Linked DNA regions of Homo sapiens: region 2 is reported to be linked to region 1. Evidence: microRNA targets listed by miRTarBase, many of them from high-throughput screens and not tested one by one. Region 1 holds a microRNA gene; the other region holds the end of a gene's coding sequence.
The links. Region 1 holds the annotated microRNA hsa-miR-7110-3p (UCUCUCUCCCACUUCCCUGCAG, at 1,488-1,509, opposite strand). A microRNA usually pairs through its seed, bases 2 to 8, with sites in the 3' UTR of a target mRNA and lowers its output. Matches are read on the target gene's strand: a 7mer-m8 pairs with bases 2 to 8, a 7mer-A1 pairs with bases 2 to 7 and ends in A, and an 8mer does both.

Region 2: miRTarBase lists IQCE as a target of hsa-miR-7110-3p. Seed matches in the 3' UTR shown: 7mer-m8 at 1,681-1,687.

The regions. Positions count from the first base shown.
Region 1 is chr3:123,159,531-123,163,366 of GRCh38, reverse strand. MIR7110 (microRNA 7110) reads right to left here and starts at 1,573; the gene lies at 1,488-1,573. It overlaps PDIA5 (protein disulfide isomerase family A member 5), which reads right to left. Exons shown (of 17, transcript NM_006810.4): 16 at 1,912-2,046; 17 at 1,263-1,487. The coding sequence ends at 1,407.
Region 2 is chr7:2,609,910-2,612,909 of GRCh38, forward strand. IQCE (IQ motif containing E) reads left to right here. Exons shown (of 22, transcript NM_152558.5): 22 at 135-3,000. The coding sequence ends at 253. Among named protein-coding and RNA genes, the nearest start is that of TTYH3, 21 kb to the right of the region's middle. RefSeq lists enhancers at 164-737, 738-1,311.

The DNA of each region.
Region 1 (3,836 bases):
CAGGAGGAAGGGAGCTGGGTCCAGGAAAGGAGGGCTGTTCCTGCAGGCCAAGTCCCCATCAAGGCCACCAGAGCGTGCTTCCAAGTACTGCAGCTTAAGCAACGCCCCCCTGAACTACTGGAGGAATCCAACTCTAGGACCGCTACTTATAACTAAAGACAAGATACTAGCACAAGGCCACTCTGCTGTCCATGGAGAAATACCACCAAGCAGACAAAACATGTTACTGCTGTGCTCAGGCTCTGCCTGCACCGCTGGGCACAGGGCTGGGGTGTCAGTCACGCAGGAATGCAGAAAGCAGGAGGACTCACCAGAAAGGTGGGTCAAAAAGGAGATGTACACAGGCAGGAGGCCGAGCAAGGCACCCATCCATGGAAAACGTGGCGTAAAGATTTGGGGTTATTATGGTTGGTGGTGGGGGCTGGTGAGCAGATCTAATATCTGCACCTCGAGAACACACCATCCCTTCCAGCCAGGGTGCACAGCAAGCAGCTGGCACAGAGCCCCCCTTCCCCCACTCCATTCATGCCCCTGAAGCGGCAACTTAATTTTCTTTAAAGGGAGATTGGGGAGGGAATGGAGAGACGAAGAGAAGACAAATAGCTGGAGAAAGATAAATACCTAAGTAAGTTCCAGGAAAACACACACAGAGGAAACACACCAATGCTGAAACCGCAATGATCCAGAAGAAGCTAGTGTTTGGTTACCATTTGCTTCAGCATCCCAATTTCCCTGATCATCTTTTGTTTTTTTCTTTCTTTTTCTTTTTCTATTTTTGAGACAGGTCTTGCTTTCTAGCTAGGCTGGAGTAGTCATGCGATCATAGATCATTGCAGCCTTGAACTCCTGGGCTCAAGAAATCTTCCCTTCCCAGCCTTACAAGTAGCTGGGACTATAGGCATGTACCCCTATGCCCAGCAACTTTATTTTCTGTAGACATGAGGTCTCATAATGTTTCCCAGGCTGGTCTTGAACACCTGGCTTCAAGTGATCCTCCCACCTCAGCCTCCCAAAGTCATTGATCATCTTGACGTATTTCCTCTCATTAGCTTGTCATTTTCCAGCAGGATATTCTGCGGTCCAGTTTCCCTGTTCTGCTCTCAAATGACTGACAGGGGGCCGACACCCTCAGGAGTCACCTCCATGCAGATGGGGCACTGGAGCACTGCTCTGTACCTCCCAGCAGAGGTGGTGGAATGAGGAGGATGTGAGTATCCACCTTTTTTAGTACAGGCTCCACGAAAATAAACCATACCACCAAATAAATGGTTTAATTTTATTTCAAAATTGTACAAAATGGCCATAAGCGGCTATAAAAAATTTGTCTTCAGAACATGTGGAAATTCAGAAACAACAAAACAGGTATCATTCACAGTGTAATGGAAAAGCTTTTTCTGAGGCAGGAATTATAACTCTTCCTTCTTTTTCCCTAGTCTTTCATGGTCTCCCTCCCGGAGGGCTCGAATATAATTGGTAAATCCCAATTCCTGCAGGGAAGTGGGAGAGAGAGAGAGAGAAAGAGCTTTAATCCCTGAGCTGGCTGTGCACTCTCTCTCCCCACACCCCCAGCCCCTCCAGGGGGTCACTCCTATGACAGGGAGAGGTGGGCAGACTTCTGCAAGGTGGAGAGGGTCTGCGTGGCTTGCACCAGCCCCGACCAGCAAGTGAGAAAACCCTCGGCATCTGGAGTCCAGCCTGCCTCTGGGGACAGGACATCTGTGGCAACCCCTTGGGACTCTCCTCCAACAATGTCAAGCCTCAGCCAGGCCCAGGGCCTGGGCCTCTCGGTGCAGTGTTCCAGCTGACTTCTGCAGTTTCTGGGATGCTGCCCAGTGCTGCCCCTCCTCAGTGGAAGTTTCCCTGCCCATCAGCAGAGAGAGAGCTCTGGGCAGACGCCTCTCCCCCACTTACTGTGCGGTCGCTGTCATACTTTTCTGCGAACTTCCCATAGTGGTAGTAGTGGAAAGTGGGGTAGCCCTTGACCGCCTCCTGCTGGCACAGGTCTTGGTTCTTGTCTTTGACACAGTCAACAGCGGCACAGGCAATCTAGGAGCCAAGGTAAAGAGAGTTGGCACAGGGTGTCCCCAGGCTGAGGCCTGGACCCCACAACACAGATTGCACATCTAGTCCACGTCACAGGCCCACTCTGATTTTTCTCCTCAGTGGCAGGTAGGAACTGAACCAAAGCACCCCCAGCTCAGGACTCCTTGGAGACTGATGGTGCTTGTTTTCAATTTCCAGATGGGTAAGGTTAGGGGACTCGGCCTGGAGTGCCTTTAGACTGTCCTTTAAAATCAAGAGTATGATGATCGTAAAGGAAATGATGACTTGAAAGCATTTGTAAACACCACAGGTTCTGTGGTGCTATCTGTAAGGGACTGTAGGATTTAATCATTTCTCCACTAATATTTCCGGAACATTAGCTTGGGGGGACAGTATAGTGCCAAGGTTAAGGGCAAGAGCTTTCAAGTCAAGTTCCCCAAGTGCACTCTTGGTTTGCCTGGACAGTAAGACTTAAGGAAAATAACTCAGCCTCTTGGTGCCTCATTTTTTTCAGCTGTAAAATGGGGATAATAATAGTATCTAGGCTATCAGGATATTGTGAAGACTGAATAAGAGAATTCCAGTGAGGCCAGTGAGCACAGAACCTGGCACCAGATTCATGGTCAGGAAATGTCAGCTGCTATTACAGTCACTTCTTCCAACCCCATATACAAGCTCTGTCCCCACTTAGGGGCTCAGTGTCTGGGCAGGGGTTGGATAAAGGGACAATTCCAACATGATGTGATGTGAGGGATGAGGGAGGTGGTCCAGGTGCCAGGTGAGTGGGGCAAAGGCGCTCTGTATGATTCGCCATCTGAGCCAAGACTGGAAGAGGAGGAGACCAGGGAAGCACATCTGGAAACTGGAGGAGCCCCGCATGAGTAAAGCCATCAGAATGTTTGGTCAGAAAGTGGTTCCCACATTGGCCACTGGCCTCTTCTTGACCATCTAGCAAATTCCACATGCTGGGTAGCTTTTCCTCATCATTTGTTGTTTTTTCAAAGGAAGACAGTATAAAGCAGAAATGGGGAACTTGTTTCCGGTTGAGGGTCATGCACCAGGGAAGCCCGAGAAGGGGTCCTCAATGGCCATACCCAGTACAGAGGTGTTATGGAAGATGGGGCAGATTCCCATGAGAATGAGTCCTCCTACCAGGCAACACACACTGAAACCCTGCCGTGTGCCAAGCCTGTTCTAGATGCTGGGGGACAACGTCGACCTTGACAAAGTCCAGTTATCAAGCGTCTGCTGTATGACAAATTAGATCATTTTAGATAGAGCTCAATGAATGCTTGGAAGAAATTAAAAGAGGGTGATTCAATAAGATAATTTAAAATTATTGAATAACCATGATTCACACAGTTCTTTGGTTGATGGTTATTTGCATTTGGACAAAGCCCCTTTCCAGGTAGGAGAATCCTGTGGGCCCCCATGGCCACGTTTACTCATCATGTCCCTCATGCCCAGGTGAGCTGCCAGATGGATAGCTGAAGAGAAGAGTGAGGTGCGGCCTCCCCTGGCCACCAGGTGCCACCTTCACCCCCCTCACCCTCACGCTTCCCTTCTACTCTTCAGCTATGTAACATTCTATACGGTGAGACTTTTAAAATGGAGTTTACAAACTTGCTGCCTGCAATCTGTATCTGGCTCTCAGTCCTCTTCTATTTGGCCCACATTGAATTTAACAACAACAAAAAAAATAAATCTGAATTAGCTCCAACATAGAAATGGAGCCAGAAGATTTAATACAACAATTTGGCTTTCCAGCTTCTCTTTAAAAGTCAGAAGACTTG
Region 2 (3,000 bases), not on the chromosome of region 1:
CCCCATGGCTTACTGCTTCTCGGGGTGGCTGCCGTCTTGCCTGCCGGGGAAGAGCAGACAGTGTAAGGGTGTCCGTGGTGGCAGCCCCTGAGGTCAGCGTGGCTGACCCCTCTCCCTGTGGTTCATTTCTGCAGACCCCTCTCCCTCAGGGCCACAGGCCTTGGCACCTCTACCTGGGGATGACGTCAACTCCGATGATTCCGACGATATTGTCATTGCACCGTCTCTGCCCACGAAGAACTTTCCAGTTTAGGTCCCCGTCACTGTCTCCACGCCGTGATGGCAGCGCTGCCGAGGACATAGGAACCACGACTGGAAAGATAATTTATCGTGTTAGGAGAAGAACGATGATACCTACTTAACACCTCAGCATCTGCGTCGTGTCTCTTTGTGCTTTTGTTTGTGGAAGGAGACCCAAATGCCTTTACTTTATTCTCTGGGGAGGGCCAGCGGCTCGCATCCCCCTCATCTCCAGCTGCAGCTCGGATGGTGGATTTTCAGTGCCAACAGACACATCTGCCGTGAACTCGCAGATGCCAGGGAGCCCTGTAGTGACACGTTCTCTGACAGCACCTTGCCGCCTGCCCACGACCTTGACCGTGAGGAGCTGCTATCCGCAACCAGCGCCGACACCATGCCCCCTCTTCCTGGTGACACCCTCAACAACCAGGATTTGCTCGATCTCAGCCCAGCAGGCCAGGCAGACACACCCCGCTGTGCCTTAGGAAGGTGTGAGACCGGCTTCCCCCATCCCCACAGCAAAACACGGCCTGTCCCAAGCCAGTGAGGAGCTAAAGACACCCAGGTCCCCAAATGATCTTACTCCATGCCCCACCCGCTCACACCGTCCTTTCCCGTCACCCTTGCTATCCCCTGGAGCACTGCCCTCCAGAGCTGCCCTTCCCAGGAAGGAATTTGGTTGGATTCTGTCACTGTGGAGACCAAGATTTTTTAAAATTCCCAATTACAAAAGCAGCATCACACTTGCTTCTGAGAACAGCAGGGTGATGTCTGTTCCCAAGCTGGTGGCGGGAGCCTTAGCCTGTGTGGGGCCACCCGGGGAAGAGGAGGAGAGGAGGGTGAGGAGGCAGGCTCGCCGTTCCAAGGGACAGCATAGGCTCGTGGTGGGGCGTGTTGCATCTGGTGTCTGGGACAGTCCCCGTCACCCCATGTGTGCGGCCTCTGCACTCCCAAGCTCCATGGCTGGGCTGGGCTGGGCTGGGCTGGGCTGGGCCGGGCGTGCGGAGCCTGTGGAGCCAGCAGCTGCAGAGGCCTAGGAGGGAGTTCCTGGGGGAAGCGCACAGTGTCCAGTGCCCATCTCTTGCTTGTGTGTGAGATTAGCCCTTGCTGGGGCGTCAAGAGGAAGAGCCTTAGACCTGGGCGGGCCTTCAGGGGCATCTAGACCCCTGCACAGCCCAGGCCTGGTGTCTGCATTTCCACAGCACCCCTGTGGGGACTCCTGCCGGGGCTGGCCGCTGTCTCAGGAGAGACCCAATGGTTAGAAAGCCCCTTTTTACACAGCTGACAGCTTCTCCCAAGGCTTCCGTCCACGGGGACAGGCTTAACCCCTGGGCGCCTTTTCTGCAGCATGGCGGCCTTCTGAGTCACCTAAGCTGAGCCTGGGTCATTCTCTGTGGCGGTCAGAAGGCCGATGGCCCCAACACAGTGGCTTGTGAAAGGGAGAGAGGAGGCTCTGCATGTCCACCTGCTCTATGGGAGGAGGACACAGGTGTCCCCAGCCCAGCCTGTTCTCTCCCAGTCACTCAGGGATGGGGCCACCCAAAGTGCAGGACCCGCCCCACCCTGCGGTTCGAAGCCTGGCCCCTGTCTCCACTTAGCTTCTGTTTCTGCAGTGGGTGGAAGCGAGTCAGCGGGGGGCCTGGCTTGTGTACGTGTTTTCCTTATTTGGTCTGTGGGTTGCCAAGTCCATTTTTTTTTCCACTGAACTGGCTGGTAACTTGATGGACTGTGTAACTGACACAGGCCCTCTTTAGACCCCTGCCTTCACCCCACCCGCCCGGGTCCACTCCCTGGGGCGCTGTCCCAAGCCATCCCTGCTTGCCAGCTCAAAGCTTCAGGTCCTAGGAGCCAGTCCACCTCGAAAGCCCTGAGAAAGTGAGACACCTGCACATTCGCTGGGGGAGACCCTCCGTTCTCTTGTGGCAGCTGCTCCCACTTGTTAAACCAAGCTGTTTCTGCGGGACGTGCTCACTCTTGGGAACCAGTGGCCTAGAGCTTTGGGTTACAGGCATGGAGAGGGCTTTCCTGCCTCAGGCTTGGAGGCCAATGTTCCATACATAAACCGCCATGTCCTCTGGTGCAGCTGGGCTGCTCTTTTAAAAGCCAGCATCCATCTTGAAGCTCGCTGGGTAAATGGCAATGCATTCTCAAGCCAGTGTCTTCAGCTGATGCCCAGTGTCCAGTGCTGGTCACCAGTCCCCTTTGCTGGGTACAGCCTGCCTGGCTGTTCTGTGGTCCTGGAACGCTGCAGTGTGGTTTTGTTCCATGGAGACAGTACCAAGCGGAGAGGCCTCCTTGCCCACGGCCCCAGGGCCTGGGGGCCAGGGGTTCTGGCCCTGCGGGGACTTAGGCAGGAGGGGAAGAGAAGCCCATGGAGCCATGGGAGGGGTGAGCTGTGGGCGGGGCCTAGTCATGGGAGGGGTGAGCTGTGGGCGGGGCGAGCTGTGGGTGGGGCCTAGCCATGGGAGAGGTGAGCTGTGAATGGGGCTAGCTATGGGTGGGGTGAGCTGTGGACAGGGCCTAGCCATGGGAAAGGTGAGCTGTGGGCGGGGCCTAGTCACGGGAGAGGTGAGCTGTGGGCGGGGCCTAGTCATGGGAGGGGTGAGCTGTGGATGGGGCCTAGCCATGGGAGGGGTGAGCTGTGAGTGGGGCTGAGCCATGGGAGCAGCAAGCTGGTGGAGTGGGCTGGGCGGAGCTGTGGGGGCTGCTGGCAGGGCCTAGGAAAGTAGACAACTCCCGGGGGAGACGAAGTAGAGAGTG